Linked DNA regions of Homo sapiens: all the other regions are linked to region 3. The links come from fine-mapping of genetic effects on gene expression. A gene starts in region 3. Each other region holds a variant in brackets. All regions are shown on one strand. Distances are between the middles of the regions.

Evidence for each region. PIP is the estimated chance that this variant, and not a neighbour inherited with it, causes the effect. A credible set is the group of variants that fine-mapping cannot tell apart.
Region 1: its variant is the best candidate, but not a certain one, in a credible set for the expression of COASY in whole blood (Lepik 2017, PIP 0.61).
Region 2: its variant is the best candidate, but not a certain one, in a credible set for the expression of COASY in whole blood (TOPMed, PIP 0.68).

Annotation. Positions count from the first base shown.
Region 1 is chr17:42,366,041-42,374,245 of GRCh38, forward strand. All of the region lies in intron 1 of STAT3 (signal transducer and activator of transcription 3), which reads right to left. Among named protein-coding and RNA genes, the nearest start is that of STAT3, 18 kb to the right of the region's middle. The variant T/C (reference allele first, on the strand shown) is at 4,100.
Region 2 is chr17:43,553,848-43,562,052 of GRCh38, forward strand. No RefSeq gene overlaps it. Among named protein-coding and RNA genes, the nearest start is that of ETV4, 12 kb to the left of the region's middle. RefSeq lists enhancers at 801-1,301, 2,729-2,798. The variant G/A (reference allele first, on the strand shown) is at 3,583.
Region 3 is chr17:42,558,380-42,566,584 of GRCh38, forward strand. It overlaps COASY (Coenzyme A synthase), which reads left to right and starts at 3,769. Exons shown (of 9, transcript NM_025233.7): 1 at 3,769-4,943; 2 at 5,582-5,796; 3 at 6,067-6,198; 4 at 6,330-6,519; 5 at 6,604-6,668; 6 at 6,848-6,932; 7 at 7,092-7,189; 8 at 7,280-7,426; 9 at 7,527-7,898. The coding sequence starts at 4,244. The coding sequence ends at 7,589. RefSeq lists enhancers at 3,845-4,094, 4,105-4,294, 6,973-7,479, 7,480-7,986, 8,193-8,205.

The DNA of each region.
Region 1 (8,205 bases), 190 kb before region 3:
ATACACTGACAATTCTCAAATTTATGTCTCTAGCCCCATCCGCTAATATGAACATCAGACACTTATAGCCAACTGCCTCTTCAATATCTCCACCTGGATGTCTAAAATGCATGTCAAACTTAATGTATCCAAAGCCAACCCCTTCATTAAAAACCTCTCCCAGCCGGCTTCTCCTCCAGTCTCCCCCATTCTAGCAAGTGACAACTCCATTCCTGCACATGTTGAGGCTAAAAACCTTGAAATGAGCCTTAACTTCAACTCCAGTCTCTCTCTCTCTTCCTCCCCCTCCTCCTGCCACACCTAATCCATTAACAAATCCTGTTGGCTCTGTCTTCAAAATCTGGAAGTGACCGGGCACAATGGCTCAGGCCTATAATCCCAGCACTTTAGGAGGCTGAGGCGGGTGGATCACTTGAGCTCAGGAGTTTGAGACCAGCCTAGGCAACATGGCAAAACCCTGTCTCTACGAAATATACAAAAATTAGCCGGATATAGTGGCGCAAGCCTGTGATCCCAGCTACTTGGGAGGCTGAGGTGGGGGTATCACTTGAGCCCAGGAGGCGGAGGTTGTAGTAAGCTGAGATTGCACCACTGCACTCCAGCCTGGGAGACAGAGTAAGATCCTGTCTCAAAAAAAAAAAAAAAAAAAAAAAAGGAAGGTGAGCCTTTCTCACAACCTCCCACTGACGCAGCCTTAATCCAGGCCACCAGCATCTCTTACCTAGATAGCTGGACTAGGCTAACTGGCCTGGATGCTTTCATCCTTGTCCCTCTACCTTCTATTCTCCACATTACAGATCCTTTCAAAATAAGAGTCCTGGCTGGCACGGTGGCTCAAACCTGTCATCCCAGCACTTTGGGAGGCCAAGGCGAGCAGATAAATTAAGGTCAGGAGTTCGAGACCAGCCTGGCCAACAAGGTGAAATCCCGTTTCTACTAAAAATACAAAAATTAGCCAGGTGTAGTGGCAGGCGCCTGTAATCTCAGCTACTCGGGAGGCTGAGGCAGGAGAAGTTGCTTGAACCGGGGAGGCAGAGGTTGCAGTGAGCTGAGATCGCGCCACTGCACTCCAGCCTGGGTGACACAGCGAGACTCCGTCTCAAAAAACATAAACATAAAAATAAATAAAAAATAAAAATAAAAACAGAAATTCGCCGGCATGGTGGCCCAAGCCTGTAATCCTAGCTACTCGGGAGGCTGAGGCAGGAGCATAGCTTGAACCCAGGAAGTAGATGTTGCAATGAGCCGAGATTGCGCCACTGCACTTCAGCCTCGGCAACAGAGCAAGATTTTGTCTCCAAAAAAAAAAAAAACCAGAGTCAGATCATTTCATTCCCCTGCTCAAAACCCACTCAGGAAAAAATCCAAAGTCCTACCACGGCCCACCAGTCAATCCATTTTGCCCCAGATGTCTCTCTTTGCCTCCTTCCCTACAACTCTCCCCTTGCTCACAGCTGTCCCCTCTCTGCTCCTGGAACACACCTTGCCCGTTTCTGCCCTAGGACTCTTCTCTCCACCTGATAGGCTCTTTCCCTAGATATCTCCATGGCTTGCTCCCTCACTTCGTTCAGGTCTCTGCACAATGTCTCTTGACACCCCTCTATCTAAAACAGCAACATCTCCCCTGCTGAATTCTCCTTTACAGTACTCATCGCCCTCCATTGTTCATATATTTCTTTTTTCATGTATCTCCTTCCAATATGATCAACTAGGAACTTAAGCCCCATAAGAACAAAGACATTCTTCAGTTCACTGCTATTTCCCCAGCAACTACAGAATGCTCAAATATTTGAATAAATGAATGAAAATTAAGTAAGTTTTTCAAAAATCTAGAACACACTTTTAGCATAGAGAAAACTGAAGTACCATAGGAGGTTAATTCACTTCATATAACAGCATAAACTGCCCTTCCTTAAGTAGGAGACAATAGGTACAATAATGCATGCAAATGTTAAGTGGTAAAGCAAACATACAAAGTTTCCCAATAGAAGAGTTTAAATTAAAATCTAAACTTCCAGCCAGGAGCAGTAGTGGACGTCTAGTCCCAGCTACTCAGGAGGCTGAAGCAGGAAGATCACTTGAGCCCAGGAATTCAAGGCCAGCCTGGGTAACATAGGAAGACCCCATCTCTAAAAACATAAAAATAAAAATCTAAGCCTCAAAAGAAAAAAAATAAATAAACAAAAGGCATTTCCTATAAAGTTAAACTGTTACAGAATTGTTTTTCTTAAACTGCAATAATGAGACTTTAGCACTCTCTTGTCCTCTAAAAGACATTATTTCATGACATGTGCCCATTGGCAGTATTTGAGAATCTAAGAAAGTAGATCACACTAAATATTGATATGCAGACACTAAAATCGTACAACCACTTGGATGACTAGGTTTGAGATATTCCCAAAGTGACAGGTTTTTGTTTTGTTTTGTTTTGTTTTTTGAGACAAGGTCTCGCCCTGTCGCCCAGGCTGGAATGCAGTGGTGCAATCTCAGCTCACTGCAACCTCTGCCTCCTGAGTTCAAGCAATTCTCCTGCCTCAGCCTCCCTGGTAGCTGGGACTGCAGGCATGCACCACCACACCTGGCTAATTTTTGAATTTTTAGTAGAGACAGGGTTTCTCCACGTTAGCCAAGCTGGTCTCGAATTCCTGGCCTCAAGTGCTCTGCCTGCCTCAGCCTCCCAATGCAACCAGCCTTTTTTTTTTTTTTTAACTTTTATTTTAGGTTTGGGGTTACACGTGCAAGTTTGTTATATAGGTAAACTCATGTCAGAGGGGTTTGTTGTACAGCTTATTTTGATAAAATATTAAGTATTAAGCCCAATACCCAATAGTTATCTTTTCTGTTCCTCTCCCTCCTCCCACTCTCCACCCTCAAGTAAACCCCAGTATCTGTGGTTTCCTTCTTTGTGTTCACAAGTCCTTATCATTTAGCTCCCACTTATAAGTGAGAACACGTGGTCTTCGGTTTTCTGTTCCTGCATTACTTTGCTAAGGATAATAGCCTCCAGCTCCATCCATGTTCCTGCAAAAACATGATCTCAGCCGAGCACGGTGGCTCACACGTAATCCCGGCACTTTGGGAGGCCGAGGTGGGAGGATCATGAGGTCAGGAGTTCAAGAACAGCCTGCCCAACACGGTGAAACCCCATCTCTACTAGAAATACAAAAATTAGCCAGGCATGGTGGAGGGCACCTGTAATCCCAGCTACTCGGGAGGCTGAGGCAGAGAATTGCTTGAACCTGGGAGGCGGAGGTTGCAGTGAGCTGAAATCGTGCCACCTGCATTCCAGCCTGGGCAATAGAGCAAGACTCCATCTCAAAAACAAACAAACAAACAAACAAACAAAAACATGATCTCGTTGTTTTTTATGGCTGCATAGTATTCCACAGTGTATGTACCACATTTTCTTTATCCAATTTGTCACTGATGGGCATTTAGGTTGATTCCATGTCTTTGCTATTGTGAATAGTGCTGCAAGTAAATCTCTTTAAACAGCAAATCTATTACTGCCTGCTTTTCAATGCTTTACCCTCAAGAAACTTGGGCTACAACTCAATAACAAAAAGCAGCATTTTTGTTCTTGTTGTTTTTAATTCAGTTTCTTTTTTTTGTTTTGTTTTGTTTCTAAGAGACAGGGTCTCACTCTGTGGCCCAGGCTGGAGTGCAGTGGCAGGATCATAGCTCACTATAACCTCGAACTATCAAACTCCTGGGCCTAAGTGATCCTCCCACCTCAGCCTCCTGAGTAGCTAGGACTACAGGTACATGCTGCCAAACCCAGCTAATTAAAAAATATTTTTTTTTTGGTGATGAGGTCTATGTTGCCCAGGCTGGTCTCAAATTCCTGGACTCAAGCGATCCTCCTGCCTCAGCCTCCCAAAACATTGGGATTATACAGATGTAAGTCACTGCACTTTGGCCATGTGTTGGTTTTTTGTTGTTGTTTTTTGAGACGGAGTCTTGCTCTGTCGCCCAGACTAGAGTGCGGTGGCGAGATCTCGGTTCACTGTAACCTCCACCTCCTGGTTCAAGCGATTCTCCTGCCTCGCCTCCCGAGTAGCTGGGATTACAGGCACCCACCACCATGCCCAGCTAACTT[T/C]AGTATTTTTAGTAGAGATGGGGTTTCGCCATGTTCACCTGGCCTCAAGTGATCCGCCCACCTTGGCCTCCCAAAGTGCTAGGATTATAGGCATGAGCCACCACACCCAGCCTTTTTTTTTTTTGAGACAGAGTCTTGCTCTGTCGTCCAGGCTAGAGTACAGTGGCATGATCTCGGCTCACTGCAACCTCCGCCTCCCAGGTTCAAGCGATTCTCCTGCCTCAGCCTCCTGAGTAGCTGGGATTACAGGCGCCTGCCACCACACCTGGCTAATTTTTGTATTTTTAGCAGAGACGGGGTTTCACCATATTGGCCAGGCTGGTCTCGAATTCCTGACCTCGGGTGATCTGCCCATCTCGGGTGATCTGCCCGCCTCGGCCTCCCAAAGTGCTGGGATTACAGGCGTGAGCCACCGCGCCCAGCCATCTTCTCATTTCTTTGGTGAGATTGTTTGGTTTTTGCTTCTGAAGATTTTCCTGTTTTTCTTTTTTTGTTTTTTTTTTTAAGAGACAGAATCCTGCTCTGTCACCCAGGCTGAAGTGCAGTGGCGCGATCTCAGCTCGCTGCAACCTCCGCCTCCCAAGTTCAAGCATGCACCACCTACAGGTGTGCACCACAACACCCAGCTAATTTTTTTTTTTTTTTTTAGTAGAGGTGGGGTTTCACTACGTATTGGCCAGGCTGGTCTGGAACTCCTGACCTCAGGTGATCCACCCACCTTGGCCTCCCAAAGTTCTGGGATTACAGGCGTGAGCCACCACACCGGGCCTCCCTGTTAAGCCCAGTTTATCCAGTATTTCTAGGTGTTTTGTACAAAAGAGTTTTCAGGGCATTTAGCCTAACATAAAGCAGAAACAAAAGTCAGGATGAGTCAAGTAACAGTATTTGAGAAAACTTCAGAGGTAGAACCAACAGGATTTGCTGATGCTTTGAATGAAAGCAGAGATAAGACAGAACAGGGAATTTAAGGATGATTCCTAGATTTCTGGCTTGCACAAAGGAGTAGATGGTGGTCTACCATTTATTTAGATGGGGAAGTCAGACAGGGAGAGAGGCACAAACTTGCAGAGAGAAAAGTTTAAGAGTTATATTTTGGGCAAGTAGACAGGAGACAACTACAAGTTACTTGAGGGAAGATGTCAAGTTTGCAGCAGGATGCAGGAGCTGGGAGCCCAGAGCGACTGGGTGGAGGGCCACACTTGCTAGTCATCACAGCGGCTAACACGTCTTCACAGTAAAAGCCAAAACAGGCGGGGCACGGTGGCTCACACCTGTAATCTCAGCACTTTGGGAGGCTGAGGCAGGCGGATCACCTGAGAACGGGGAGTTCAAGACCAGCCTGACCAACATGGAGAAACCTCGTCTCTAATTAAAAAAAAAAAAAAAATTAGCCAGGCGTAGTGGCGGGCGCCTATAATCCCAGCTACTCAGGAGGCTGTGGCAGGAGAATCGCTTGAACTCAGGAGGCGGAGGTTGCAGTGAGCCGAGATTGTGCCACTGCACTCCAGCCTGGTCAACAGGAGCAAAACTCTGTCTCAAAAAAAAAAAAAAAAAAATTGAGGCCAGGTGCGGTGGCTCATGCCTGTAATCCTAACACTTTGGGAAGCTGAGGCAGGTGGATTACCTGAGCTCAGGAGTTCAAGACCAGCCTGGGTAACACAGTGAAACCCCATCTCTACTAAAATACAAAAAAATTAGCAGAACATGGTGGCGTGCACCTGTAATCCCAGCTACTTGGGAGGCTGAGGCAGGAGAATCACTTGAAACTGGGAGGCGGAGGCTGCAGTGAGCCGAGATTGCGCCATTGCACTCCAGCCAGGGCAACAAGAGTGAAACTGTGAAACTCTGTCTCCAAAAAAAACCAATTTTAATAGGTATACCATTATACACCCATTAAAATGGCTAAAATCCAAAACACTGACACCACTAAATGCTGGTGAAGATGTGGAGTAACAGGAACTCTCACTCACTGCTGATGGGAATGTATAATGGTACAGTCACTTTGAATATAGTTTGATAGCTTCTTACAAAACTAAACATACTCTTACCATATGATCTAGCAATTGCACTCCTTGATATTTATCCAGAGGAGGTGAAAAGTCCTGCACTGGAATGTTTATAGCAGCTTTATTCATAACTGCTCAAACTTGGAAGCAACCAAGATGTCTATCCTTCAGGTGAATGTTTGATAAACAACATGTGGTATATCCATACAATAGAGTATTACTCACCAATGAAAAGAAACAACCTATCAAGCCACAAAAAAACATGAAGAAACCTGAAATGCATATCATTTACTGAAAGAAGCCAATCTGAAAAGGCTACACACTGTATGTCCAACTATATGACATTCTGGAAAAGACAAAACTATGGAGATATTATAAAAGATCAGTGGTTGCCAGTGGTTCAGCAGAGGAATGAATAGGTGGAGCACAGGGGGTTTCTAGGGCAGTAAAACTATTTTATATAATTGTGTACTGGCAAATATACATCATCACACATTTGTCAAAATCCATAGAATGCTCAACAGAGTGAAATGTAATGTAAACTATGGACTTCAGGCTGGACAGAGTGGCTCACACCTGTAATTCCAACACTTTGGGAGACTGAGGCAGGAGGATTGCTTGAGCCCAGGAGTTTCAGGCTATAGCAAGCTATGATGATGCCACTGCAACCTGGCCTGGACAACACAGTGAGACCCTACCTCTAAAAAATAATAATAATAAAATAAAAATAGAAATAAAATAAACTCAGGAATTTGGTTAATAATAATGTATCGAGTTGGTTCATTAGTTGTAAGGGACGTACTATACTAATGCAAGATGTTAATAATAGAAGTTGTGGGAGAAAGTAAGGGGTATATGGAAACTCTCTGTACTTTCCACATAATTTTTCTGTAAAACTAACACTGCTTTAAAAAATAAAGTCTAGACTGGCCGCAGTGGCTCACGCCTGTAATCCCAGCACTTTGGGAGGCCAAGGCAGGCGGATCACGAGGTCAAGAGATCGAGACATCCTGGCTAACATAGTGAAACCCTGTCTCTATCAAACATACAAAAAATTAGCCAGGCGTGGTGGCAGACAACTATAATCTCAGCTACTTGGGAGGCTGAGGCAGGAGAATCACTTGAACCTGGGAGGCGGAGGTTGCAGTGAGCCGAGATCATGCCATTGCACTCCAGCCTGGGCAAAAAGAGTGAAACTCCATCTCAAAAAAAAGAAAAGAAAAGAAAGAAAACACGTATCTACTAAAATTACAAAAACTAGCCGGGTATGGTGGCAGGCACCTGTAATCCTAGCTACTTAGGAGGCTGAGGCAGGAGAATCACTTGAGCCCGGGAGGTGGAGTTTGCAGTGAGCCAAGATCACACCACTGCACTCAGCCTGGGTGACAGAGCGAGACTCTGCCTCAAAAATAAAATAAAATAAAAATAATAAAGTCTATTAATTTTTAAAATATATTAATTGAGCCGGGCGCGGTGGCTCACGCTTGTAATCCCAGCACTTTGGGAGGCCGAGGCGGGTGGATCACGAGGTCAGGAGATCGAGACCATCCTAACACGGTGAAACCCCGTCTCTACTAAAAATACAAAAAATTAGCCGGGCATCGTGGCGGGCGCCTGTAGTCCCATCTAGTCAGGAGGCTGAGGCAGGAGAATGGCATGAACCTGGGAGGCAGAGCTTGCAGTGAGCCGAGATCGCGCCACTACACTCCAGCCTGGGCAACAGAGCGAGACTCCGTCTCAAAAAAAAAAAAAAAAAATTAATTGAGCTTTATGGTTAAGTTTTTAAAAAGATAAATCTGACCCATAAAGTTTAAATAATAGTCAAGATGGAAGATGAGTGATCTCCCCAAGGAGACAAGCTTTTCTATGAAAATCTTATCAAAATGTATAATGTACTTAGAAAACTAAGTGACCTCATTACACATCATAGTTTTGCATGATGTAACCACTCTTCAGAGAATATCTCATTTTGTCCTTCAGCTCCCACACAAGAGAAGGTTAAGGAAATTCCACTACTCATGAAATTATAATCCCACAATGTAAGTGAAGTGGTGGCTGTGCCTAGGAAAGAAAGAGAATACACGCTTAGAGAGAATCTAG
Region 2 (8,205 bases), 1.0 Mb after region 3:
CTGGGTGGAGAAGAGGATGGCAGAAAGAAAGGATGTTAGGGGAACACATGCTGAGAGGACATAATACCTAACCAGAGGGGGACCAGGCATTCTGGACCCCAACTTGAGTTTCCAAAATACAGTGTTTGGGCCGGGCGCAGTGGCTCACGCCTGTAATCTCAGCACTTTGGGAGGCAGAGGCAGATGGATCATTTGAGTATGGCAAAACCCTGCCTCTACTAAAAATACAAAATTAGCCAGGCGTAGTGGTGCATACCTATAATCCCAGCTACTTGGGAGGCTGAGGCAAGAGAATTGCTTGAACCCAGGAGGCAGAGGTTGCAGTGAGCCGAGATCACATCATTGCACTCCAGCCTGGGCAACAAGAGCAAAACTCCGTCTCAAAAAAAAAAAAAAAAAGTACAGTGTTTGTATATGCGCTTTACACTTTATTGTTTTACTAAGCCTTTTAAGATATCTTATTACATTTTCCCAGCATTCCTCAAAGTAGGTATATTTAGTTCCATTTTATAGTTGAGCACTCTAAAGTCCAGAGAGTAATTTGCTTTATGTCACCCAGGGAGAGGGAACCAACCAAACCACCCGCTTCAGACTCCCCAGCTCCACGGAGTTCCAGAGATAGTGACTTCTGAGGGCTGAGTAAAGACAATAGCACGTTGTTCTTTCTAGCCTGATCCCCAGTTCTCTGGGATCCTGATCCCACCTGACCCTCCCCTTCTTGACATTTCCTTTTTATGTTCTTCCCCCACCCCACCAAACCCCACTTTCCTGTTAAGAAATGCCTGTTAGGATCTTGTTAATTGTGTATCTTACAATGTGGTTTGGCATTTTCTTAAATTGCATGTCACACATGAATGTCTTCCACAAAGGGAAAACTGATGGAGGGGGGAGCATTTTGCTCCCTAGAAATTGAGAATGTAAAGTATATTTAATTAAAATGATAAATCTGATATTCAGTTTTGTTTTTACTACTACTAAAACTAATCTATTTTATGCACATTTGCAGAAGGCTGCAGCCATCAAATCAGAGAATATTAGAGCTGTGAGGCACCTTGGAGATCTGTCTGGGCCAAATCCTTCATTGTAGAGACAAAGAAACTGAGTCTCAGATTGGGGAAGTGCCGGGGATGCGTGAGTGGCTGAGGTGGAGCCAGGCACTGCGGCTTGTTTTCCTGCGCACCACCTTCTCTCTCTGGCTTCAACTTCTGTGCATCACAGGGTGGGAGTCACCAGGCTCCGACTCCTCTCTCTTTTAATGTCTTCCCCCTCCCCATGCAAACTCATGCTGGGAGGGGGGATGGGCCTCTGGAGCTCCCCTTCCTCACCTCCCCAGGGGGTACTGTTTATTTTCTGTCAATTCTCTCCCTCTGGCTTCTCTGACTCCCGTCTTTTCCCAGGCAGGATCCTTGTTTGGCATGATCATTTGGTGAGATTTTATTATATTTTATGTATTTATTTTTGAGATGGAGTTTCACTCTTGTGGCCCAGGCTGGAGTGCAGTGGTGCAATCTCGGCTCACTGCAACCTCCACCTCCCAGGTTCAAGTGATTCTCCTTCCTCAGCCTCCCGAGTAGCTGGGATTACAGGCATGAGCCACTACACTGGGCTAATTTTTGTATTTTTAGTAGAGTCAGGGTTTCACCATGTTGGTCAGACTGGTCTTGAACTCCTGACCTCAGGTGATCCACCCGCCTCAGCTTCCCAAAGTGCTGGAATTACAGGTGTGAGCCACCACGCCCGGCCTGGTGAGATTTTAAATGGCATTTGGTTCTCTGTTTTCCCCTCTGTCCTTCTACAAGGTAGTAACCAGATCTCTGCTTTTATTGTCCCAGCTGTGCCTGCAGAGTTGAAAACAAGCTATTGAATCCACATTTTAGGTTGCATTTGCTTAAAACAACATTGTGCATTTGCTTAAGACAACATTGTGCATGTTGTAAAACATTTATTTATTTGAATAGATAAGATATCCACATAGCGGCCAGGCGCGGTGGCTCACGCCTGTAATCCCAGCACTTTGGGAGGTCGAGGCGGGCGGATCACGAGGTCAGGAGATTGAGACCATCCTGGCTAACACGGTGAAACCCCGTCTCTACCAAAAATACAAAAAAATTAGCTGGGCATGGTGGCGCGCGCCTGTAGTCCCAGCTACTCGGGAGGCTGAGGTAAGAGAATGGCACGAACCAGGAGGAGGAGCTTGCAGTGAGCTGAGATCACACCACTGCACTCCAGCCTGGGCAACAGAGTGACTCCGTCTCAAAAAAAAAAAAAAAAAAAAAAAAAAAAACCCACATGGCACAAAATTCAAAACTAATGTAGTACTCGCCAGTGAAATTTTTAAATCTCTCCTCTCTCTGTCCTCTAGCAGCTCAGTTTGCCTTCCTGGAGGCAGCCATTATGTTCAGTTTCTGGTGTATCCTTGGTGAGACGATCCATACATGTATATCCAAACCAATTCATACCTCACATACATACATTAATTAATTCCTTCCCCTTTGGTTACAAAACTTCTCCTGCATGATGTTGTCTTGGGGAAGTATCAACAACTGCTTAGTCATGGTTTGGGGCGTGCCAGGTTAGAGGCAATGACCTTTCTGATTTACGAGGTGGTGCTGGCTGCACTCATTTGGGTTCTGTGGGGAGGTGGCTTTGAGTTCCTCGGGGCCCAGTCTGCAGTGGCTATTGGGAGAAAAGGCCCCACCTTCCTGGGCAGAGAAGTGGAGCTTCCACTTAAAGAGGCAGAAGGAGGCTGTCAGAAGAGGGAAGGGTGAGTGTGTGTCTGTGTGCATGCACACACACACGCGTGCAGGTTATAGTAATCACTGTTTCACATCTTATTTTTAAGAAGTCAGAAGGTTGTGGTAAGAAGTGAGAATGAGGAGTCCCCTTTAAGGTGGTCTAAGGTTGTGCCCAAGACAGTTGGCTTGTTCCTTGGGAAATGTCTTTCAGGGCCTGAGGAGCTGGATAAAATGGAGGGAATGACCTAATCCATTTGGTCCAATTGATTTTTTTTTTTTTTTTTGAGACAGAAACTCACTCTGTTGCCCAGGCTGGAGTTCAGTGGCGGGATCTCAGCTCATTACAACCTCTGCCTCCTGGGTTCAAGTGATTCTCCTGCCTCAACCTCCCAAGTAGCTGGGATTACAGGCACACACCACCAGGCCTAGTTAATTTTGGTATTTTTAGTAGAGAAGGGATTTCACCATGTTGGCCAGGCTGGTCTCGAACTTCTGACCTCAAGTGATCCGCCTGCCTCGGCCTTCCAAAGTGCTGGGATTACAGGCGTGAGCCACCACGCCCGACCTCATTTGGTCCAATTTCTATCAGGAATCTTCTTTGTCATCATCTCCCCTAACTCCAACTTCAATACAGTCTCAACAAGCATTTACAGAAATACACTCTGCAAAAAAACATGTGCTAGGCTCAGAAAAATGTCCAGAGGCTCAGAAATGAGGAAGGCCCTTGCCCCTGCCCAAGGAGCCCGCCATCTCGTGATGGCATTATAGGTGTGTGGGGCTATAAGTCTTCAATGTTTTTGTGCAAAAGTCAGGGGCTGCCTTTCAGGAGGAAACAGTGAAGGGTGAC[G/A]GCTTCGGTCCTGGAATTCCTATTCTTTTTTTCTTTTTTTTTTTTTTGAGGTGAAGTCTCACTCTATTGCCGGGCAGGAGTGCAGTGGCGCAATCTCGGCTCACTGCAACCTCTGCCTCCTGGGTTCAAGTGATTCTCCTGCCTCAGCCTCCCGAGTAGCTGGGACTACAGGCGCCCGCCACCACACCCGGCTAATTTTTGTATTTTTAGTAGAGACGGGGTTTCACCGTGTTGGCCAGGATGGTCTCTAGCTCTTGACCTCATGATATACCCACCTTGGCCTCCCAAAGTGTTGGGATTACAGGCATGAGCCACTGCGCCCGGCCGGAATTCCTGTTCTTTTAAGCCCATGTCTAATGCCATTTCCTCCATGAAGTCTCTCCTGGTGCATTTCTTCTCCCAGGGAACCAGCGCTCTCCTTCAGCTTTGTCAATGTAAGTTGTGAAGAAAGTATTTGTTGGTCGGGCATGGTGGCTCATGCCTGTAATCCCAGCACTTTGGGAGGCCAAGGCAGGAGGATCACTAGGTCAGGAGATAGAGACCATCCTGGCTAACACAGTGAAACCCTGTCTCTACTAAAAAAAAAATACAAAAAATTAGCCAGGCGTGGTGGCAGATGCCTGTAGTCCCAGCTACTTGGGAGGCTGAGGCAGGAGAATGAAGTGAACCCGGGAGGCGGAGCTTGCAGTGAGCCGAGATCGCACCACTGCACTCCAGCCTGGGTGACAGAGCGAGACTCTGTCTCAAAAAAAAAAAAAAAAAAAAAAAAAAAAGAAAGTATTTGTTCATTGGAAAAGATAAGGTCTCTTTCATGATGCTCATCTTCCCCAACCTTGTGTTACTATGAAATCCTCTGTGGATCTGGCTTGAGTCTCCCCACTGTGGATCTGGCTTGAGTCTCCCCACTGGATTAGAAGTTCCTAGAGAGCAGGCTGGGTGCCTCACTTCTGTGCTCCCTGTGGCACCCAAGCCTGCCCCTGGAACAGTCAGGGCTTTGCAAACTCCCTGCTGAAGCTGAATCAGAGGGAGTAGCTTTGTTCAGCCTCTGGAACTGAGTTCACAGCCAAGGAGTGCTCTCAGGAGAGATATGGAAGGACATGTATGGCCTGTAAGCTACAAAGTGCTTTTTTTCAATGACTGAAAAAACATTTTTTAAACACAATATTTTTTGACATGTGAATATATGAGAAATTCATTTTTTTTTCTTTTTGGAGTTTCACTCTGTCACCCAGGCTGGAGTGCATTGGCGTGATCTCAGCTCACTACAACCTCTGCCTCCCGGGTTCAAGCGATTCTTATGCCTCAGTCTCCTGAGAAGCTGGGACTACAGGTGCATGCCACCACGCCTGGCTAATTTTTTGTATTTTTAGTAGAGATGGGGTTTTGCCACATTACCCAGGCTGGTCTCCAACTCGTGTTCAGGCAATCCGCCTGCCTTGGCTTCCCAAAGTGCTAGGATCACAGGAATGAGCCACTGCTCCTGGCCGACAAATTCAAATTTTAGTGTGCAGAGATAGTTTTATTAGGACACAGCCATGCTTACTTACTATTTTAGGTTGCTTTGTGTTACAACAGGACAGTTTAATATTTGCAAGAGCCACAGTATGGCTTGAAAAGCCTAAAATATTTACTCTCTGGCCCTGAACAGAAAAAGTTCGCAGGCAGAGAACCTAATTCACAAATACTAGGAATCCACGTTGAAGGTTGGGCAGCCCAAGGGAGGTGGTCAAGTGTCTCTGGGCAAGGCAGGGGCAAGGGCAGCCCAGCAGGAAGCAGGAAGGGAACTTGCCTAAGGTTGCCCTGCTGGGAAGGGGTAGAGCTAGCCTGTGAACCCAGGCTTGTTTGCTTTCAGAAGCCAAATACCTGTCCACAGCCACAGAAGAGGCCTGGACTTTGGTATTTAAAGGAGAGATAGAGACCCTCCTCACTGAGAGGATCAGAGAAGACTTCTTGGAGGAGGTGGCATTGGAGCTAGCATTGAGGTGGGTAGGATTTGGGTGTGGGGCTAGAGGGAGGATATTCCGGGCTTAGGGAATATCAGGACCAAGGGCAGGAGTCTGGGAAGCACAAGGTTAAATTAGGGGAGGGGGAAGACTCTAGGGTGCGGTGGAAGGGAGTTTTGGGAAGTGGGGAGATAGTCCTTGGAAACCCTTGAGATATTTGCCTTGGAATTTTCTCTTTGGAATCTTGGCTCTGTGGCCCCAGGCCTGATGTCTTTGCCGGCTGGCCACGAAGCTGAGAGTAATTCCAGGCTAGCGTGAGAGGCCCTGGTAGGTCAGAGTGTCTGGTTGCCTAAGCTTTTGTACATCAGTGGCCTTGGACACGTTTTCCTGGATGCAGGCCTGGTCTCGGTGGCAAGGCTTTCCCTGAGTGGAGCCTGGGCTATCTCCCTGGTAGAGATTCCAAGACCTGCCTGTGAATTTTCCATGGGGCCATCACACCCCTGGAACTGAGGAAAGAAAAAGGGGGAAGTGGTTTTCCTTTGCAAGCATGAAGCTGGTGGCTTCTCCTTAGAGGTCCTAGCTGGACCCCATCCTCCCTTCTGGGATGGAGTGGAGGAAATTTTACCTTTGGGAACCTGGGAGGCCAAAGTTCTGGAGATTTAGCAGCTGACATCCCTAAAGGATAAGCCTTAGGCCTCCTGGCAACTACATCAGTGCTTAATAAATGTTTGTGAGTGAAGGAATGAGTGAGTGGGTGCTGGGGGAAGGGGTTTGTCCACAGGGGTGCAAAACAGGCCTCTACCTGCCAGACACTTCCTGTTTAGTCGGGGAGGTGGGTGGGAGGTGGCACTGTGCTGTTATAATAATAACATTTTTCATAACTGAGGTTTAAGCACTAAAGGCAACCCAGGATAGGTACATATCAACAGGAGGGCAGAGGAAGCCACTCCTGGAGGTGTTCCCGTTCTAGCCCACAGAGGCTCTGAGTTCCTGCCCTGCTTAGTGCTGGCTTGTCCTGGAAGTTCCATCATTCTAGGTGCTAGACCCTCACTTGGTCTCTGCTGCTCTCTACTGAGGATGGAGACTTCAGAACCATGACCTCGTGCAGAGGGATCACTGGTATATGTGGGTCTCCTGGGGGTAGAGGAAGGGGGCATTTGTGACCTTGGGTCCTGCTGGCCCCCCTCTGGGAGTTACAAAGCTTACTTTCTCTGCTCAGACAGGGCTGGGGGAGTGAGTTGTTCTTTTTGCCCAACCCAATTTCAGCAACTGCATGTGAGGGAGAACCACGGCAGCTTTGAGTCACACTCCTAGTGCCCTGCTTGTCCCATGGTAGGAGGGTGTCTGCTCATGCCTCCAAGTCACTCACTTCTCCAGGGCTCTGTAGCCCACCCCTCTTCGCTGGTCCCCTCAGGATCTCAAACTCTGGAGACCTCAAGTCATTCAGCTTTGACCCTGCTCTATTCCCTCTCCCAGGGCAGGCCGCTGCTACAGGGAAGGGAGCCCAACAGAATCGTCTCTGTGCAGCTTTGCACCATGGAGTCTCACCCAGCCCTCTATATTATTGTACCAAAACCTGGAGGCTCAGAAAGGTTAAGTGACTTGCCTGACTCACACAGCCAAGAATGGCAGTTGGAGCTTGAATGCCTGTGAACTTCTGTCTAGTGTATCAGTAGATTCAATGGACTGAAAACAGGAGACCTGAGGTCTGACCCAGACACCCATGTCCAGAGGCGCAGGGCAAGGAGGCAGAGGCTCAGTTGAGGAATCCTAGTTCCTGATAACAGAGATGACAGCTAAAGTCAGAGAAAGGAAGTTAAGAAAGAAAGGGATTGCTGGTGGTGAAGCTCTGGCTTCTCTATGCCTAGTGGCTGTTGATTCAAGATGCCCTCTGTGGCCGAACCTTTGGGGTCAGGTGAGGAGGAGGATAGGGCCTTAATTTAGACAGAACCCTTGGGCCCCTGCCTTCCAGTGGAAATACCAGGGTAATGGAAACTGCAAATAGGTGTTATACCTGGGGTTTCAACTAGGGTTCCAAACAGGAATATTCCTGGGGCTGGGGTAGAGGGAGGAGGTAGTTAGTAATTATTTCCATTTTATTCATTTATTGAGCAATTGCTACATGCCAGGCACTGTGTTAGGAGATGAGAATACAGGGTCAACGACAGTCAAGAACAACAGCAAATCTTTCATCGTTCATCATGTGCCAGGCTAAATGTTTTGCATGTGCTACTCATTTATTCCACATCATATATGTGTACAGCGTAGAGAAGTTTCTTTCTAACTTCTCTGTTAGAAAGTTTCTAAGTGTCTGGGCGCAGTGGCTCACGCCTGTAATCCCAGCACTTTGGGAGGCCGAGGTGGGTGAATAAACTGAGGTCAGGAGTTCGAGACCATCCTGGCCAACATGGAGAAACCCTGTCTCTACTAAAAATACAAAATTCGCCAGGCGTGGTGGCGCATGCTTATAGTCCCAGCTACTCGGGAGGCTGAGGCAGAAGAATCGCTTGAACCTGGGAGGCGGAGGTTGTGGTGAGCTGAGATGGCACCATTGCACTTCAGCCTGGGCAACAAGAGCGAAACTCCTTCTCAAAAAAAAAAAAAAAAAAAAGAAAGAAAAGAAAGTTTCCCAAAGTCACAGAGCTAGTGAATAGCAAGGGGAGTCAATGAGTAAGCTCAG
Region 3 (8,205 bases):
TAGCTGGGCGTGGTAGTTTGTGCCTGTAATCCCAGCTACTCGGGAGGCTGAGGCAGGAGAATCGCTTGAACCCGGGAGACGAAGGTTGCAGTGAGCTGAGATTTCTCCACTGCACTCCAGCCTGGGTAAAGAGTGAGACTCGGCCGGGTGCGGTGGCTCATGTCTTTAATCCCAGCACTTTGGGAGGCCGAGGCGGGTGGATCACCTGAGGTCAGGAGTTCAAGACCAGCCTGGCCAACCTGGTGAAAGCCTGTCTCTACTAAAAATAGAAAAATTAGCTGGGCGTGGTGGTGGGTGCCTGTAATCCCAGCTACTCAGGAGGCTGAAGCAGGAGAATCACTTGAACCTGGGAGGCAGAGGTTGCAGTGAGCCGAGATCATGCCGTTGCACTCCAACCTGGGTGACAGTGAGACTCTGTCTTAAAACAAAACAAAAGAAGCAAAGTTTATTTTGCTCAGAGCTTCACAGTTTTAGGGGCTGGAAAGTGCAAGAACTTCATGCAGTATCTGGCAAAGGGCTGTCCCAGGATGGAAGGGCAGAAGGTGGAAGCAAATGAGAGACACGAAATTGGGCCAAATGTCGTCCATCCATCAGGAGCCACTCCCATGATAACAGTATTTATCTATTCAAGAGGGCAGAGCCCTCATGATCTAATTATCTTTTTTTTTTTTCTCCTGCCTCGGCCTCTTGAGAAGCTGGGATTTTAGGCGCATGCCACCACACCCCGCTAATTTTTGTACTTTTAGTAGAGACGGGGTTTCACCACGTTGGTTGGGCTGGTCGCAAACTCCTGATCTCAGGTGATCCACCTGAGATCCACCACTTTGGCTTCCCAAAGTGCTGAGATTACAGGAGTGAGCCACCTCGCCCAGCTGACCTAATTACCTCTTAAAGGCCCCACCCTGCCCAGTGCAGTGGCTCAGGCCTGTAATCCCAACACTTTGGGAGGCTGAAGTGGGAGGACTGCTTGAGTTCAGGAGTTGGAAACCAGCCCAGGCAACACAGCAAGATCCTGTCTGTATGAAAAAAAAAATTTTTTTTTTAATTAGCCAGGTGTGGTGGCACACATCTGTAGTTCCAGCTGCTCAGGAGGCCAAGGCAGAGGACTGCTTGAGCCCAGGCAGTTGAGGCTGCTGTGAGCCATGATCAACCCACTGCACTCCAGCCTGGGGGACAAGAGTGAGACCCTGTCTCAAAGAGAAAAAAAGTCCCATCTCTTAAGACAGTAGCAATTGAATTTTTTATTTCAACATGAGTTGTGGCAGGGACATTCGAACCATAGCACCAAGGTTCTCCCCAAAGCTCTCCAAGACCTTCTTTGATCTGGTTCCTGCCCCCTTTCTGATCTCATCTCCCACCAATCTCCATCTACATCACCCAGTTCAGCCCTCCTGCCTCAGGGCCTTTGTACTTGGCCCCCTCTGGGTCACATTCCCTGATCTCTGATTCTATGTCTTCCTTCAGATTTTTGCTGTTTTCCTGAACCACCTTATCTAAAATAGCCTCTCAGCTTCTCCACTATAGCTCCCTTACTCTGCTTTACTTTTGTTCTTATCCTTTATCACCAGTAGATATATTATGGATTTGGGTTTTTTAATTTAATTTTTATTTTTTTTGGAGACGGAGTCTCTCTGTCACCCAGGCTGGAGTGCAGTGGCGTGATCTCGGCTCATTGCAATCTCTGCCTCCCAGGTTCAAGCGATTCTCCTGCCTCAGCCTCCTGAGTAGCTGGAATCACAAGTACCGCCACCACACCCAGCTAATTTTTTGTATTTTTAGTAGAGACGGGGTTTCACTATGTTGGCCAGGCTAGTCTTGAACTCCTGACCTCAGGTGATCTGCCTGCCTCAGCTTCCCAAAGTGCTGGGATTACAGGCGTGAGCCACCGCGCCTGGCCATGTATTATAGATTTATTTATGGTGGCATGATTCCTGTCTGCAACCCCAAGACACACAGTACTCTATACCCCAGGATGGCAGGGACATTGTTTTGTTCACTGGTCCATCCCTGTGGGAGGCAGTAAAATACACATTTACTCAATAAAAATGACTCTGTATGTGGTGTGTCAGACTGTGTGTCCAGATGTCTTGGGACATTCTCTGGCAGCCTTTGCTGTTTGTGTCTTCAAATCAGACCCTATCTTTAAATCTAACATGTCTCCTGTGAGAAGCCTGGTCCCTTAATACCTTTGTGGCTCTACAACTCTTCCCTCCTTGACTGTATCTCTTCCTCCAGGTCTTTGCTGTTTTCCTGAATCACCTTATCTAAAATAGCATCTCCTTTTCTCCATCATAAGCCCAGGTTTTGTGGGGCTGGGGGCTTATTTGCTTTTGGAGACCGTCTTCAAGAATACAAAAGATAAACACAAAATTACATATAAAAGTGAGTTTTGTTTTTTTTTTTAAGTTTCGGATACCACGGCACATTACTGGAATCTTGGAGACTGGCTTCTCTCCCTTTTGATCTCCATGCACAACTTACCTGAGATGTATTCTAATAGCAACCTGGCTTCCCCTCCACACTCAGCCTTTCAAGCGCCCATTAGCTTCGCAGTAAATCTCCCACACTAGGTATCCAGCCTTTGCCTTTTTCTTTTTTCTTTTTTTTTTTCCAGAGGGAGTTTCGCTTTTTTTTTTTTTTTTTTTTTTTTGAGACGGAGTCTCACTCTGTCACCCAGGCTGGAGTGTAGTGGTGCGATCTCGGCTCACTGCAAGCTCTTCCTCCCGGGTTCACGCCATTCTCCTGCCTCAGCCTCCCGAGTAGCTGGGACTACAGGCGTCTGCCACCATGCCCGGCTAATTTTTTTTTGTATTTTTAGTAGAGACGGGGTTTCACCGTGTTAGCCAGGATGGTCTCGATCTCCTGACCTCGTGATCCGCCCGCCTCGGCCTCCCAAAGTGCTGGGATTACAGGCGTCAGCCACCGCGCCCGGCCGGGAGTTTCGCTCTTGTTGCCCAGGTTGGAGTGCAATGGCACAATCTTGGCTCACCGCGACCTCCGCCCACGGGTTCAGGCGATTCTCCTGCCTCAGCCTCCTGAGTAGCTGGGATTACAGCCATGCGCCACCACGCTCGTCTAATTTTGTATTTTTAGTAGAGACAAGGTTTCTCCATATTGGTCAGGTTGGTCTCGAACTCCCGACCTCAGATGCTCTGCCCACCTCGGCATCCCAAAGTGCTGGGATTACAGGCGTGAGCCACCGCGCCCAATCAGCCTTTGCCTTTTTCTCCTGTCCACAGAGACCCCGCAAACAAGCGCATCAGAGGATCTGGGTGGTGCGAGAGCCTCCTACAGCAGCCAGGTACACACAAGGCCTCAGTTTTTCCATCTGTGAAATGGGTACGTGGACAGACCTGTCCAGTAGCCTCCCATGTGAGAATCCTCGGACTGAGAGGGTACTAGGAGGGCTAATACAGCGCAGCCCTGTGATTCCCCACCTCTGTCCCTGGAATGAAGGAAATCTGGGTGTTAGTTCTGGCTTTGCCGATGCCTCTTGGGTGGCCTGGCTGAAACTAATCTCTCCTCATCAGGCCAGAAGGGAATCTGTGAAATGGGCTTTGAAACCTGCCTTGCCTTTCTCCGCCCGGTCCCAGCGGGGGTCCGATCGGCATCAAGGCTTCACCCACTCCCAGAGCCTTCGGGATCAGCCCCACCCCATCAGCAGGACACAGCCCATGCCACTGGAAATCTCGCGAGAATCCCGCGCTGAAGCGAAGTCGAGACGTTTGACCTTCCTCCGTTTCCGTAGTTCCGAGTTGCGGTTTCTCCGTTAGTGCTTCCGGGTTGCAGCCAGGGAAGCCTCCGCGGTGGTGCAAGTGGAACCCAAGCCTTGAGGTTTCAGTGAGTAGGGGGCCGACGTGAGCTTTAGCGTCCCCCTTTAGCCTCCCTCTTCGATTCCTTGAAGACCCTGGTGCAGCTTAGCAAGAGGGCCCAGGATTTTTGGATCCCCAGCCCTGTGACAAGGGTTCCTGTCCAGTTTCCCCCTCCCAGGATTTCGACTCAGTTCAGCGAAGTCACCGCCCCGTCTGAGAAATGAGGACACCAAGGCTTAGAGCACAGCCCCGAGGCGCCGTCTACCAGGCCCCGTCCCCTCCCCCGGCTCCTGTCGGTCAGCACTGAAACCCCGTCCCTGCTCCAGGCCTCCTTCTCTGGGGTCCAAGGTCCCATACAGGCCTCTGCCTCGGCCGCAGGCCCTTCAGTCACCGTCGCCTCGTCTCCCTGACTGTCCGCAGGCCTGGGCAGCATGGCCGTATTCCGGTCGGGTCTCCTGGTGCTGACGACGCCGCTGGCCTCCCTAGCCCCTCGCCTGGCCTCCATCCTGACCTCGGCGGCCCGGCTGGTGAATCACACACTCTATGTTCACCTGCAGCCGGGCATGAGCCTGGAGGGCCCGGCTCAGCCCCAGTCCAGCCCCGTGCAGGCCACGTTTGAGGTTCTTGATTTCATCACGCACCTCTATGCTGGCGCCGACGTCCACAGGCACTTGGACGTCAGAATCCTACTGACCAATATCCGAACCAAGAGCACCTTTCTCCCTCCCCTGCCCACCTCAGTCCAGAATCTCGCCCACCCGCCAGAAGTCGTGTTGACAGATTTCCAGACCCTGGATGGAAGCCAGTACAACCCGGTCAAACAGCAGCTAGTGCGTTACGCCACCAGCTGTTACAGCTGTTGTCCGCGACTGGCCTCGGTGCTGCTATACTCCGATTATGGGATAGGAGAAGTGCCCGTGGAGCCCCTGGATGTCCCCTTACCCTCCACGATCAGGCCAGCTTCCCCCGTGGCCGGGTCTCCAAAGCAGCCGGTGCGTGGCTACTACCGTGGCGCTGTCGGTGGCACGTTTGACCGCCTGCACAACGCCCACAAGGTGTTGCTCAGTGTCGCGTGCATCCTGGCCCAGGAGCAGCTTGTGGTGGGAGTAGCAGACAAAGATCTGTTGAAGAGTGAGTAAGAGGGACCCTGGACTAGGGTGGAGGATCCCCAAATCTCCCCACCCCCGACCCTTATGCCGAGATCAAGGAAGGGTAGGGCCATTCATTACTTCCCACCCTTCCCAAATGTCACAGTGGTTGACACTCAATTGGTGCTAAGGCCATTTTGTCAAATGAACAGCTTTCTCAGCATGTGGTCCAGTCACCACTCAATCAGAATACCCCAAATGTGAAGCAAAGGGATCTGCATTTTAGCAAGTTTTCCAGGTGATACACCCTAATGAGACACTGGGAATGAATGGGTGAGTGAGCTGCAGGTAGCAGTGCCACAGACAGGAGGAGGAAACTCAAGCATGGCATGGGTCTTGGAATTTTCCATCTGCCTCTGATGCCCTCTGGCACTGCTCGTTCTCTGGAGTGGTTTCCTGGTGGCTTATTCTCTGGACACATGCCAGCCCTTGGAGTGACTATTGTGCTTGCCTGTTTCTTCACCTTCATGCTCCCCTCACCATCACCATAGGCCTTACCAGTTGAACCCTTTCTGCCACCCCCTCTGGGGATACTGTACTTAGGGACACTTTTTCCCAAACTGGCCCATACTCTCCTCCCCAATAAAAAGATCTCACTGTTCTTCTGGGCTCCTTCCCCAGGCAAGTTGCTCCCTGAGCTGCTCCAACCTTATACAGAACGTGTGGAACATCTGAGTGAATTCCTGGTGGACATCAAGCCCTCCTTGACTTTTGATGTCATCCCCCTGCTGGACCCCTATGGGCCCGCTGGCTCTGACCCCTCCCTGGAGTTCCTGGTGGTCAGCGAGGAGACCTATCGTGGGGGGATGGCCATCAACCGCTTCCGCCTTGAGAATGTAACCCCTGAGGGAGACTGGCAGAGGGAGTGGATGGGGGACGGGGAAGGCCATTTTGAGGGGGCTGTTGGAAGTACCATGGCCCCAGAGGAGAGAAGTGGGGGCTCAGGGTGGTGGGAAGAAGCAAGGAGGAACTGGTTCTCAGTTTGCCCGCTGAGTCGGAGGAGGAGGAGCCTGGGTAGGAAGGGGAGGATGGGGGGGCAGGTTGGATGTCAGGGTCTTCCTCTCACTCCCTCCTTCCCTCTTTTTACCCTTTCCTCTTTACCCCAGGACCTGGAGGAACTTGCTTTGTACCAGATCCAGCTGCTGAAGGACCTCAGACATACAGAGAATGAAGAGGACAAAGTCAGCTCCTCCAGCTTCCGCCAGCGAATGTTGGGGAACCTGCTTCGGCCTCCATATGTAAGCTCCTCTCCCTCCTTCCCTCCTGCTTGGTGTCCTGGCAATGCTGGAGAGTAGAAGCTGAGGGGCTCAGCCCCAGGCATGAGGCTGAGGGCCCCAGTAACTGTGGGTTCCCTTTCACCTATCCCCAGGAAAGGCCAGAGCTCCCCACATGTCTCTATGTAATTGGGCTGACTGGCATCAGTGGCTCTGGGAAGAGCTCAATAGCTCAGCGACTGAAGGGCCTGGGGGCGTTTGTCATTGACAGTGACCACCTGGGTCATCGGGCCTATGCCCCAGGTGGCCCTGCCTACCAGCCTGTGGTGGAGGCCTTTGGAACAGGTAATAACTGGGGAAGGCTGAAAGTGGCCTGGAGTGAGGAGCTAGCCAGGCCTCTGTGCTCAGTTGTCTGTCTGTGTTGTCCAGATATTCTCCATAAAGATGGCATCATCAACAGGAAGGTCCTAGGCAGCCGGGTGTTTGGGAATAAGGTAAACAATAACTTCCTAAGGGCTCCTAAGCCGCTACTAGACCCAGGGGTCAGGGTCCAGTGGACCTCTCTGGTCTGGCCCAGAATGCCATTTCCATTGATCTGTTCCCAACACCACCTTGCTCGGGCTGGCTGCCTCTTCTAGAGAAGGTAACCTCTGCCCTCTGTTCCCCTCCCCAGAAGCAGCTGAAGATACTCACGGACATTATGTGGCCAATTATCGCAAAGCTGGCCCGAGAGGAGATGGATCGGGCTGTGGCTGAGGGTGAGTGGGAGGGAGGATGGCAACAGCTAAGGGGACAGTTAAGCTGTTTCTTCCCCTGGGAGCTTCCCTGCCCAACGTGGGACTGTCTGTTCACCCTGGGACTGTGTTCTGCCTGGGAGAACGTCGGCACTGCTGGCGGTGACTGGGGTCTCCCCACAGGAAAGCGTGTGTGTGTGATTGATGCCGCTGTGTTGCTTGAAGCCGGCTGGCAGAACCTGGTCCATGAGGTGTGGACTGCTGTCATCCCAGAGACTGAGGTATCTCGCCCCACCCCCCACACCATCCCTACTGCAGATCCTATCCTGTGAGCTGGAATTCTTCCTGACAAATGTCTCGTCTGTGCTCAGGCTGTAAGACGCATTGTGGAGAGGGATGGCCTCAGTGAAGCCGCGGCTCAAAGCCGGCTGCAGAGCCAGATGAGCGGGCAGCAGCTTGTGGAACAGAGCCACGTGGTGCTCAGCACCTTGTGGGAGCCGCATATCACCCAACGCCAGGTTGGTGCCCAGGGCAAGGCCGGGTTGTGGGGAAGGAGTCTCCAGTGGGTACTGCCTGACCCTGCCCTCTCTTCCTCCCAACATCCTGGCCTGTCTGAAGGTGGAGAAAGCCTGGGCCCTCTTGCAGAAGCGCATTCCCAAGACTCATCAGGCCCTCGACTGAAAAGTTCTCAGTGGGGCCAGACTGGCTCCTGGAGCTGACAAGCGACCCCGTGGTGAGGAGAAATGGGGGCCTTGATGCTCACCCTGGTTCAGGCCCAGAGGTCCAAGCTATACTGTGCAGGACATGGCCAGGCCTGGTGGACACAGGAAGCCTACCCAACACGCTGGTATTTGGCCAACACTGAGGATGTGGTTCATGGGGGAGCAGTCCCCTCCCCACTCTTGCCCATGGGTGACTCTTACCCACAGCTGACTAGGGCCAGCGCAAATACTGGAACCTGTAACAGAATTAAAGGTGAATGTTCTGAGATGTTGCTTGTATGGTGTCTGCTTCCTGTTCCAATGCCCCTAAGTATCTTTGGGATCCTTAAGCCACAAGTGCAGGGCCCAGGCCTGAGCTGGAAGCCTGGGCAATGCAGTGGTTAAGAGAATGGCCTTTGAGGCTAGCCAGAGGCGAGCTTTGGCCCTCCCACTGACCAGCTGTGTTCTTCTGAGTAAGGTGTAGACTTTCTAGGTACTGCCGTGTTTTATTGTTTTTGTTTTGTTTTTAATATGAGAGGCCGCATAACCTAGCTAGCAGGTTCTTTGCAAGGGTTCATTCCACATGCATCCTGCCA